Linked DNA regions of Homo sapiens. The protein of the gene in region 2 purifies or fractionates together with the protein of the main gene of each other region. This does not show direct contact. Each region holds a gene or a part of one and is shown on either strand. Other genes may lie near its edges. The genes, in order: SETX and SETMAR.

Region 1 (7,297 bases), on a different chromosome or scaffold from region 2:
CTGGCCTGCTCTTTCCTTTGTCATTCAAAGTTGCCTACACTTAACACTGAAAACAAAAACAAATTTAAAATCCACAAAAGTATCATACCTAAAGGATTCTTCTTGTCTTTACATTTTTCTTTGAATTCAAGGATAATTTTTTTCATGAGTTCATCAACAGCTGCATTGGAAGGTGCACACACGAGGACACGGTTTTGTTTGATTTTGGCATTGGAGTTTTCGTCTGAATGCCCCTTCCTCTGGTTCTACAATTTGCCACATATACATACCAAACAAACACACAAAAAATATGGGTGAGCTCTATTACATAGCTTTAAAGTTTGTCTTTACTTCCATGTATTTTTGAAAGTTCTCGTAATAAAGTTAAAAATAAATAAAAGCATCTACATCTAACACTGATATTTAAAATTACTCCAGCAAAAAAATTTGTCATAACTGCTCTGAGCCTTACTTTATCATCCACTTACTTTAATGAATACTCAATCCAAGCCAGGCACAGTGGCTCACGCCTGTAATCCCAGCACTTCGGGAGGCCGAGGCGGGCGGATCACTTGAGGTCAGGAGCTCGAGACCAGCCTGGCCAACATGGCGAAACCCCATCTCTACTAAAAATACAAAAATTAGCTGTGGGTGGTGGTGTACGCCTGTAATCCCAGCCACTAGGGAGGTACTCGGGAGGCTGAGGCAGGAGAATCACTTGACCTGGGAGGCAGAGGTTGCTGTGAGTCAAGATCGTGCCACTGTACCCTAACCTGGATGACAGCGAGACACTGTCTCAAAAAAAAAAAACAAAAAACCACAATCCAACCAAAATGCAGCCCAGCATTCACAGCATTCTACGTGACCTACCGTGAAGCCTGAAGACCATCATTCTAGTCCTTACGATTTGTTTCACATAAGATAGTGGTTTTTTCCTCTTTTTATTTCCCATAACCTTCCCTCCCTCTGCCACCCTTTTCTCTGACACAGTTACACACAATATAAAAAATATATACAAATCAAAGAGGAAATGGCATGTTAATACTTATTTACATGTCAGTTAACTCAAGTAAAGTAAAATGATACAGCTAGTTAACAGCATCAGTGCCCTCACCCATACCTACCTCTGTCAGTAGACGATAGAGGAGGCCAACAATAGTTTTTGATTTTCCTGTTCCAGGTGGTCCATGAATCAAGCAGATTTTGGCAACTGATGGTGAGTGTTTCACCATAGCATATGCAGTTTCTATTGCTTTCTTTTGATCTTCATTGAAATCTCTTAAGTACGCAATCTATATAAAAAACACATTTTTGAGAATGAGTTGCTGTTTCTGTAGTGGAATTTGAAAGGAAGAACATGAAAAAGACCTGTCCAAATTTCTTTCAATGCATGAGACAAAAGCTTTGGTTATGGTCAGACAAGACAAGGACACCAAAGTGACCTTTAATCTAAAAAGCACGTTCACTACTGGAAAGAAAGCTAATTACTTACTAATTACTAATTAGTGTCTGTAACGCTTCAAGTACTTACAAATACAACTGTACTTTTATTTTTTATTCTTACAAAGATAATCACAATAAATTGCATTTACTAATCCACAACTTTTCTTCTATTTACTACTCTGTTTTTTTCCTTCTTTAGTCAATTTTCTCCTTAGTGAAAACATCCCAAGACTATTTATTTCCTAGCACATGTGATACAGTGGAAAAAGCATGTATGCCAGGGGAAGATCTGGGTGTAAGCTTCACTTGCACTTACAAGCTAGGCCACTACGCTCCTAACCCAAGCCTTGGCCTCTGTTACTCATTAAATCTAGGATTCCTTAAGAGGTGAGAACAGACTGAGATAATGCACATGAAAGCCATAGCATACAGCTCTAGAGTTTCTAAATAGTTAGTTTCCTTTTGCATTTCTCTGTTAACTTCCTAGAGTTTATACACAGCTTCACATGTTCAGTTGACAACTTCATCTTTGCATTTCCAACAATACCGGCCAATTCTCCATCAATCATTCAAATGTAAATTTAACACCACTAAACCTGAGACTTCTCACCTAATGCACATTAAGTAGGCTGCTGACCTAACATTTTAATGTTGCTCTTCCAGCAACCTTCGACGCTTATTGTACTGTACCTTTTCCTGAAGTGAGCTGACTTAACCTAAATTACATACTTTGCAATACTAAAGAAAACTAACACTAAACTGTTCACCGTGAACACATTTTTGTTGTAAACATATAGGAATACATAGCAGCTAAAAAATATGATGCTTTAACATCTTAACATGAAATTATCTAGTATCATACATCATCACTCACAATTCTCTCAGATGTTGTAGTCAGTAAATCTTTTGTACAGAAGTCCATAGGGTTTGGATTCAGAACAGCTCTAGCCAGTTGGTTCCGACTACCCAACAGAGACATGGCTTTCAACTTCCTTTGTGTAGTTACCAGAGAACTGATTACAATACAATTCACAAGTTCGTTTAAATTGGCCGGAAAGTTCTCTTGAGTCTGGATGGAAAGGTAACACTCAGTTTTCCCATTACGCACTATCATCAAGAAAGAGAAAAAGCAACTTCAGTTATCACTGAATAATGCTGCCTAGTTGTAAAGGTCATGCAGAATTAGGTATTTTTAACATATTTTTGGATATTATTTACATAATTTACCCAGTAAATATTTATGGACTGCTTCCTGAACCCAGTAATGTTCTGTCCTCCGGAGGCTTATTTTCTAGAAGATGGAGGCAGATAACCAAATAAATATGTCAGGTGGTAGTAAGTGCTCTGAAGAAAGCACACAAAGGGAGGAAGTGATGGGGATGGAGGCAGATAAGCTGGTCCGAGAAGGTCTTCCTGATGAAATATTTGAGCAGAGACTTGAAGTAAGGGAGTAAACAGTACTCAGCAGAGGGTAAATAGTACTACATGCAGAAAATAAGCAACTGCAAAGATCGTAAGACAGAGATGTGCCAGGAATATTTTAGAAATAGGGAGAAGGCTAACATGGATAGAAGGAAAAATAGGGAGAAGAACGCTTAGCGACTCAGAGTAAAACGGGGCTACATTTTATAGGGCTGTGCAGATCACAGTAATGACTCTGAACGCTATTCAGGATCAGGGTAGAAAACCATTGGGCACTCTGTGTAGGGAAATAACATGCTCTATCTCACAAACTAAAAGAACCACTCTTACCTCAGAACAAAGAATAACTACAATGAGAAAAGTACAGAAACAAAAAGACCACTTACAAGGTTACCATAGTAATTTAGGTAAAAGTTAATGACAGCTTGGACCAGGAGGCACTAGTAGACGTGGGAACTGGATTTGGGATATATTGCAAAGGAAAAATCAATCATATCTGCTGACAAATTAGAAGTGAGGTGTGAGAGAAAGTAAGGATCATGGATAACTCCAAGGTTTTTGGCCTGAGTAACTGAAAGAAGTGAGGCCCCAATTAACAAGATGGGAAAGAATGAAGGAAGTGCAGATGTCAGGCAGAAAATCAAGTGTTAACTTTTGGACTAGTGGATTTGAAATGTCTAACACATTTCCAAATGGAGGTATCCAAGACATGATTTTGATCTATGAGGAGTTCAGGGAATGAGACTGCCTTAGAACTATAAATTTGGCAAAGGTAATCATTTTCAAGAGCCAAAAGCACAGAGTAAGCCATCAATCCTCACTGCAACTCTTCTAAATGTATCCTATATTCTACAGAATTAAGCCCTGATCACACAAATAAACATGGTACACCTGTTATAATGCAGTACAATGTTGACACACTTTATTGCTATATTAATATATCATGCAAAAAGGAGAAGGAATAATGAAATAATGTTCTTCTCTTCACATAACTAAGACTAAAAAAGTTGCAATTGCCAAAAAGGCAGTTTGGCATAAGAAAAACAATGTGGACTTTGCAGTCAACAAAAGCAGGCTTCAATTCTGGACTTACCAATTAACACTGATGACAGCCTTGAAAATAGGTTTACTTAACATCCCTGAACCATGATTTCCTGGGGAGCAAGGAATAATTTCTTCTACCTTTTGGGGCTTTGGGGAAGATTATAAATGTACATAAGAAGGACAAGTCTCGGCTGGGCGCGGTGGCTCACGCCTGTAATCCCAGCACTTTGGGAGGTTGATGGGGGTGAGGAGTTCGAGACCAGCCTAGTCAACATGGTGAAACCCCGTCTCCACTAAAAACACAAAAAATTAGCCGGGACTGGTGGCGGATGCCTATAATCCCAGCTACTTGGGAAGCTGAGGCAGGAGAATCGCTTGAACCCAAGAGGCGGAGAGTGCAGTGAGCCGATACAGCACCACTGCACTCTAGCCTGGACAACAAGAGTGAAACTCCGTCTCAAAAAAAAAAAAAAAAAAAAAAAAAGGGACAAGTCTCACTGCATACATCTGGTATTCATTAAATTTAGGCTAATATTTTTGTTATTAAATTACCTAGGGAGAAACATACAACGGATGGAAGTGATGTAAGCAGATTCCTCAAGCTGCCTTACAGTGAGTTTTATGTTTGGTCATCTCATTAGTAATTGGCCACAAAACCAAGGATGAAATGTAATTTAACAAACAACAGATGGTCTGCAAATGGTCCATTTTATAGCAAACACAATGATGGATAAAGAAATGTAACAAAAGGATAGAACATTACAAAAATAAATACAAGGTCTTTTCCAGTTAAGTCTAGAAAAACTAGAAAAGAGACTCTGAATGGCCATGTAATCAACATAGCAAAAACATGTTCGGTAAATGTCTATCAAATACACTTGATATACACAATTGAGAAGTAGATTATTAGATGAGACTGTATCTGACATTTCCTGTCAATGCCTCATTATTTACTTACTGACTGACGTGCGGCGAAATTTATGAACATAACCAGAATGATATTCGTGGAGATCTTGTATGTCATTTCTCTCTGTATCTTTCTTCTCTTCATTTATTCTCTCAGGAGCTAAAAACACCAAATCGTTTTCCTTTGGATAAAGCTGTTTAGCCAGTTCACATTCTTCCAGATAAACTATGAAACAAGAAGAAGTCGGAATTCATATAACTCTAATAGAATTATTTTAAATAAGATTAACTTAAAAGAAATTAAATCCTTGTATTAAGTTCAAAAATACACAGCACTAAAGGACTCTGCATATACTTTAAAATGGTAATCTAATCCAATCAAAAACTTCAAATATTAAAAATATCAATTATAGAATATAGTTTTCTTCAAAACTGCTATAAGGCCAAAATAGACAAAACTATAATATTGAAAAGTAGCTAATAAATTTTCTTTCCTTTAGGTTTATTCTGCTTTTTTTTTTTTTTTTTTTTTTGAGATGGAGTCTCGCTGTGTTGCCCAGGCTGGAGTGCAGTGGCGCGATCTCGGGTCACTGCAAGCTCAGCCTCCCAGGTTCTCGCCATTCTCCTGCCTTAGCCTCCCAAATAGCTGGAGGCGCCCGCCACCACGCCCGGCTAATTTTTTTGTATTTTTAGTAGAGATGGGGTTTCACTGTGTTAGCCAGGATGGTCTCGATCTCCTGACCTCGTGATCCGCCCGCCTCAGCCTCCCAAAGTGCTGGGATTACAGGGGTGAGCCACTGTGCCTGGCCTATTCTGGTTTTTAACTAAATTTCTCTCATTTGTTTCCAACTTTCAAAACCCCCGAAGAAAATTCGGAAACAGATCCAAGTAGTTATACACCGCATAATGATGTTGTGGTCAGTGATGGACCGGATATATACAACAGTGGTCCCATAAGATTATAATATATTTTTACTGTATCTTTTCTATGTTTAGATACACAAATACTTCCCCATGTTACAATTACCTACAGTATTCAATACGGTAACATGCTGTACAGGTTGGCAGACTAGGTGTGTGGTAGGCTACACCGCCTAGGTTCCTCTAAGTACACTCTTACTTCTCATGATGTTGGCATGATGATGAAATCGCCTGACACATTTCTGAGAATGTATCCCCATCATTAAGTGACATGTGATTGTACATACAAGAATTTTGCAACTTCTACGCATTTCAAACAAGTGGGGAAAGACGGTTGTAAACTACATGGGACTAGGAAAACAGAGAAAGCACTGGAATAAAGTTCAGTACCAACTGCCGAATCTAGCCCTATACTCTGAAAAATACAAACCACTGCTGAGAGAAACTGAAGACAGCCTGAACAAATGAAGAAATGTACTAAGTTCAAGGCCTAAGACTTAATATTGTTAAAATGTCAGCTGTCCCCAAATTAATCTTTAGAGTCAAAGCAATCCTAGTAAAAATACCAGCAGATGGCCGCCAGGCACAGTGGCTCACGCCTGTAATCCCAGCACTCTGGGAGGCCAAGGCAGGTGGATCATGAGGTCAGGAGATCGAGAACATCCTGGCCAACACGGTGAAACCCCGTCTCTACTAAAAATACAAAAAATTAGCCGGGCATGGTGGCAGGCATCTGTAGTCCCAGCTACTCGGGAGGCCGAGGCAGGAGAATGACGTGAACCCAGGAGGCGGAGCTTGCAGTGAGCCGAGATCACACCACTGCACTCCAGCCTGGGTGACAGAGCAAGAATCCATCTCAAAAAAAAAAAAAAAAAAAAAGGCCAGGTGTGGTGGCTCACGCCTGTAATCCCAGCACTTTGGGAGGCCGAGACGGGCGGATCACCTGAGGTCAGGCGTTTGAGACCAGCCTGGCCAACATGGTGAAACCCCATCTCTACTAAAAATACAAAAATTAGCCAGGCGTCGTGGCAGGCGCCTGTAATCCCAGCTACTTGGGAGGCTGAGGCAGGAGAATCGCTTGAACCTGGGAGGTGGAGATTGCTGTGAGCCAAGATTGCGCCATTGCACTCCAGCCTGGGCAACAAGAGTGAGACTTTGTCTCAAAAAAAAAAAAAAAAAAAGCAAAAAAAAAAAAAAAAACCAGCAGGCATTTTTATAAATGTTGACAAGTTGATTCTAAAACTGATGACAATAAAAAGAAACTTTTTACAAAGAACAAAACTGAAAGGCTGACTATCCAATTTCAGTATTTTTTATAAAACAACAATAAGAGACTGTGGTATTGGTGGAAGGCAGCTATACAGATAAAGAAAACGGTGTTTAAAAGCAGACCTGCAATCAAGATCAACTGATATTCCGACAAATATGCCAAGTTATTGAATGGCAAGGTTATTCAATGAGAAAGGCTACATTTTTTTTAACAAGTAACACTAAAACTGAGCACCTATTTTTACATTGTTTTTGATTTATTTTTTTAGAGATTGGGTCTTGTTCTATCTCCCAGACTGGAATGCAGTGGTAT
Region 2 (4,694 bases):
GGCACTCTAAAATGCAGGGCTCAGGGCAGGAACCTCTCTTGCTCAGCTCTAACCCTTCTGGTCACCTCTTAGTGACTTTTTCCCCCTTTAAGTCTGCCATTTGAAGGACATTATATCCTAATTACACCTGAATAGAAGGGAGAACTTTGGGTCACATCCTACAGACAGTTCTCAAGACTAATAATTTACATTTATTGAATACTTTCTATATACTCAGGCATTGCTCTAACCCCTTTGCATGTGTTAACTCAATCTTCCCAACTAAGGAAACTTTGACTTGGAAAGGTTCAGTGATTTGTTCAATGGTAACACACTGGAGAGTGACTACATTTTAATTAGGGCAAAATTTTCCATTTGGCCAAGAACAAAATCTAACAGCCACTGCTATTTTGTGAATAGTAATTTGAAAATTAAAGGAAAATTTTTTTAAAGAAAAGCTTTGTTCTTCAAGTGTGATCGTTATTATTCTTGGGCCAAAATGCTTTTCAAGGTACATGTTTTAATCTTTTTTTAAAAAATTATTTTATTAGAGTCAGGGTCTCACTATGTTGCCCAGGCTGGTCCTGAACAATTGGACTCAAGTGATCTGCCCGCCTGGGCCTCCCAAAGTGCTGGGATTACAGTTGTAAGCCACCATGCCAGGCCACATTTCTACATTCTTAATAAAGTCCGTGGAATCTACTTCAAATGCAATTTTAATTTATATTTCAATCTATGAAGATATTGGGTTGGTGCAAAACTAACTGCGGTTTTGGACTGTGAATTTTAAATCATTATAACTAGGCTCAACGCATTTTTATTAATCAAAATAGGAACCATTACAATCAACACATTTTTGCCAACGAGAAATAAGTTGGTTTATTCCTGTAGCGTAAAAATCCGTGCTTTGGGATTCGACGAACTCTTGGAAAGCATTTTCTGCATCCTGCTGGTTGTGGAAGCGTTTTCCCTGCAAAAAGTTGTTGAGATGCTTAAAGACGTGGTAGTTGGTTGGCAAGAGGTCAGGTGAATACGGTGGATGAGGCAAAACTTCATAGCCCAATTCATTCAACTTTTGAAGTGTGGGTTGTGCAACATGCGGTCGGGCATTGTCGTGGAGAAGAATTGGGCCCTTTCTGTTGACCAATGCCAGCTGCAGGCGTTGCAGTTTTTGGTTCATCTCATCGATTTCCTGAGCATACTTCTCAGATGTAATGGTTTCACCGGGATTCAGAAAGCTGTAGTGGATCAGACCAGCAGCAGACCACCAAATAGTGACCATGACCTTTTTTGGGTGCAAGATTGGCTTTGGGAAGTGCTTTGGAGCTTCTTCTTGATCCAACCACTGAGCTGATCGTCGCCGGTTGTCATATAAAATCCACTTTTCATCACACGTCACAATCCGATCGAGAAATGGTTCGTTGTGGTTGCGTAGAATAAGAGAAGATGACACTTCAAAACGACGATTTTTTTGATTTTCAGTCAGCTCATGAGGCACCCACTTATCGAGCTTTTTCACCTTTCCAATTTGCTTCAAATGTCGAACGACCGTAGAATGGTTGACATTGAGTTCTTCAGCAACTTCTCGTGTAGTTGTAAGGGGATCAGCTTCGATGATTGCTCTCAACTGGTCGTTGTCAACTTCTGATGGCCGGCCACTACGCTCCTCATCTTCAAGGCTCTCATCTCCTTTGCAAAACTTCTTGAACCACCACTGCACTGTACGTTCGTTAGCAGTTCCTGGGCCAAATGCATTGTTGATGTTGCGAGTTGTTTCTGCTGCTTTACGACCCATTTTGAACTCGAATAAGAAAATTGCTCGAATTTGCTTTTTGTCTAACATCATTTTCATAGTCTAAAATAAACATAAACAGCAAGTAAGATGTCATTAGCAAAAAAACATAAAGAAATGCTCATTAAAATGGTGTATAACATGACCACATTTAAGAATGTATTCCAATATCAAATACCAAATTCCAACAATGCAAAAACTGTTACTTTTTTTTTTTTTTTTTTTTTTGAGACAGAGTCTCGCTCTGTCACCCAAGCTGGAGTGCAGTGGTACAGTCTTGGCTCACTGCAACCTCTGCCTCCTGGGCTCAAGTGATTCTCGTACCTCAGCCTCCTGAGTAGCTGGGACTACAGACATGTGCCACCACATCTAACTAATTTTTGTATTTTTAGTAGAGATGGGGTTTCACCATGTTGGCCAGGGTGGTCTCAAACTCCCAAGCTCAAGTGTTCTGCCTGCCTCAGCCTCCCAAAGTGCTGGGATTACAGGTGTGAGCCACTGCACCCAGCCCCATCTTTTAAAATTTGAATCTTATAATTTATAAAAATGTTATTTTATCATGGGATAATAGTCAAGTGGAAGTATATTTTTAAATGTTTTCTCTCAAAAGAAGTGTCAACATTCTCAAAAATATGGCAATGAAGCAAACAAATGCAGTTAACTTGCTGCTTAGAAAAGACTTGGAATAAAGACTCTTTGACTCTTACCTTAGGAATCTGGTTTCTAGGATTAAGTGCTATATAATAAACTAGTGCCTGAGGACAAAAAATTTCCAGGGGTCCATATTCAGTCAGTTGTCTCTGGCAGAGGCACTGAGTTGGAGGGGGCTGTTTGTGTCCTTGTCTCTGAATGGAAGATTGTCCTCTGGGAATATCTCTGCTGTTCAATATAGAAAGGCAAAAGGACATAGAAAAGGGTATCTGCAGAATCAAATGGTGAGCCAATCATTTTCCTTCTAACCACTTCCATATTGCGTCTGAAGCAGCTCAGTTATTAGGTGAGCTTGTGAGCAAGAAAAAGCACATTTTGGAGTGAGGGATACAAGCTGCCTTATTAAAAGCAGGACTGCTTCAGAGGCATTGAAGTAATAGAGGACAGTTGGCATGGAGAAATGATTAATTTGGAGGAAAATTTTTGATACTATGTATTTGTAATTTGGGGCATTTTATGTGTACTCTAGTACCATTTGTTCACAGGGAACCATTCCATGTAATGTTATATGAACATTATAAACCCTAAGATACTTAAAAACGACCTAGCTTTATTGAGATATAATTCACACGCTGTATATTTCACTCATTTAAAGTGTACAATGTACTTATATTACAGAGGAATAGTGTTATATATAACATGGATTCCTATAATGTTGAAAGTGCAGGGCCTCCTAGTGGTAGGGTTTAAATGTACTAGAGAAGAAATTAAATTACTTAATAATATCATAGGGGCTCTAGTAATTATTTTAGCTTTCAAAATGTCTGATAAACCTCCACAGTAACTGTATTTTTGCAACATCCCTGCTTTAAGGAAGGTAGTTAGAGATGTTTGCTGCTCTAGAAGTTTAAACGGGATCATAAAACTCCCGTCTCCTTCTGTGGTGTGGACAGGGTTATTTTTCTGTTATTTATACATGAAGTGAGGCTGTTTGAAGTTTTGAAGCATAACTTCACAAGATTTGGAGTACAGCCAAGTATATAATGAAAATGAAAAATTTACAATGTGTCTCTTTTTCTGACTTTTGGTTACAACATGTAAGTCATTTTCATAGTTATATTTTTCACTACTGGTAGTACTTATTAGGGTTTTAGCAGGTGATAGTTAATAATGCCTTTTTCCTTGATCCATGCTTAGAAACAATTAAGTAGGACGCAGGAGTCAGACAGAAATCAAAAAGTCAGCTTTATTACTGTTAAAATTGGTTGGCAAGCAGGGTTTAGGTATGCAGCCACAAGGGTTTCTTGGATCATTATTAGGTTCGATGTTAGTGCTAGAAAACTTACAATAACAGTGACTTAAGCAAGGGAGAGACTATTTCTCACCTGAAAGTACAAAGGTGTCAGATCACGACTGACAGGATGTTCTACAGTACCAGACACCTAGACTCCTTTTAACCTTGTTGATTTTTCTATGCAATGGCTTCCTTTCCCAGGGTCATCCTGGGGTCTAGGATGACTGCTCCAGTTCCAGTCATCATGTATACATTCCAGCCAGCAGGAAGAAAGAGGAGGTGAAGGGCAGGATATCTCCATTTAAGGACTTGTCATTTTTGCTTATATCCTATTAACTAGAACAGTCACTAAGACAAATCTAACTAGGAAAGTGAGTATTCTGGGTAGTCATGTACTTTTGTTAAATGGAGAATTCTATTACAGAAAGGGGAAAGGATACTGATGGACAACTTGCAGTCTCTGCCACATTCCTGAGTTAAACTTATGTAACTAGGCAGAGGTAAAGCTAGCCAACCACTGTCTTCCACTATAGGGAGGGGCAAGCTGCTTATCACTGAACAGACTCACCTCAAGGGTCAATCGCTTGCAGGAGGGGAACACAGAAGGGGCTGAGCCACACATGCTGGGTTCCTTCTCATTTCCACAACTGATGTTCGACTTTTCTACGGGGCAGTACAGAGAACTGTCAAAAGGCAGGAAAGCAGTACATGATTTGGCACCACAGTAACAAGGTTTCCTTAGTTTCCCATGATCTAGCCTTTCTTTGTCTTCACTGACTGTTAGATTAAGATATCTTCCTGAATAATCATAAGAGAGTTCTTCTTCTGGCACAATATCTTTGGCTGCAAAAAGTGCCAACTTAGGTACCATTGAGTCAATTCGGACAGGAATCATCAAAAGGTTTGGCTCACAAGAATGATTAAGGAATCTTCCAATATTTCCTATATAAGTAGGGTCAACAAATGTTTCCATTACCT

The links.
Region 1: the proteins of SETMAR (region 2) and SETX purify together in Homo sapiens (affinity purification with mass spectrometry; 2 studies listed by BioGRID and IntAct, with this or other methods). This does not show direct contact.

The regions. Positions count from the first base shown.
Region 1 is NC_000009.12:132,295,784-132,303,080, forward strand, and holds part of SETX (probable helicase senataxin), read right to left. Parts: intron 5,021-7,297; coding exon 4,847-5,020; intron 2,530-4,846; coding exon 2,297-2,529; intron 1,272-2,296; coding exon 1,104-1,271; intron 246-1,103; coding exon 89-245; intron 1-88. UniProt on the Homo sapiens protein: Probable RNA/DNA helicase involved in diverse aspects of RNA metabolism and genomic integrity.
Region 2 is NC_000003.12:4,313,352-4,318,045, reverse strand, and holds the end of SETMAR (histone-lysine N-methyltransferase SETMAR), read right to left. Parts: coding exon 4,285-4,694; coding exon of another isoform or gene 4,207-4,284; exon of another isoform or gene 3,651-4,206; intron 2,651-3,650; coding exon of another isoform or gene 2,558-2,650; exon of another isoform or gene 2,479-2,557; intron 1,835-2,478; coding exon 800-1,834; 3' UTR 781-799; downstream 1-780. UniProt on the Homo sapiens protein: Protein derived from the fusion of a methylase with the transposase of an Hsmar1 transposon that plays a role in DNA double-strand break repair, stalled replication fork restart and DNA integration.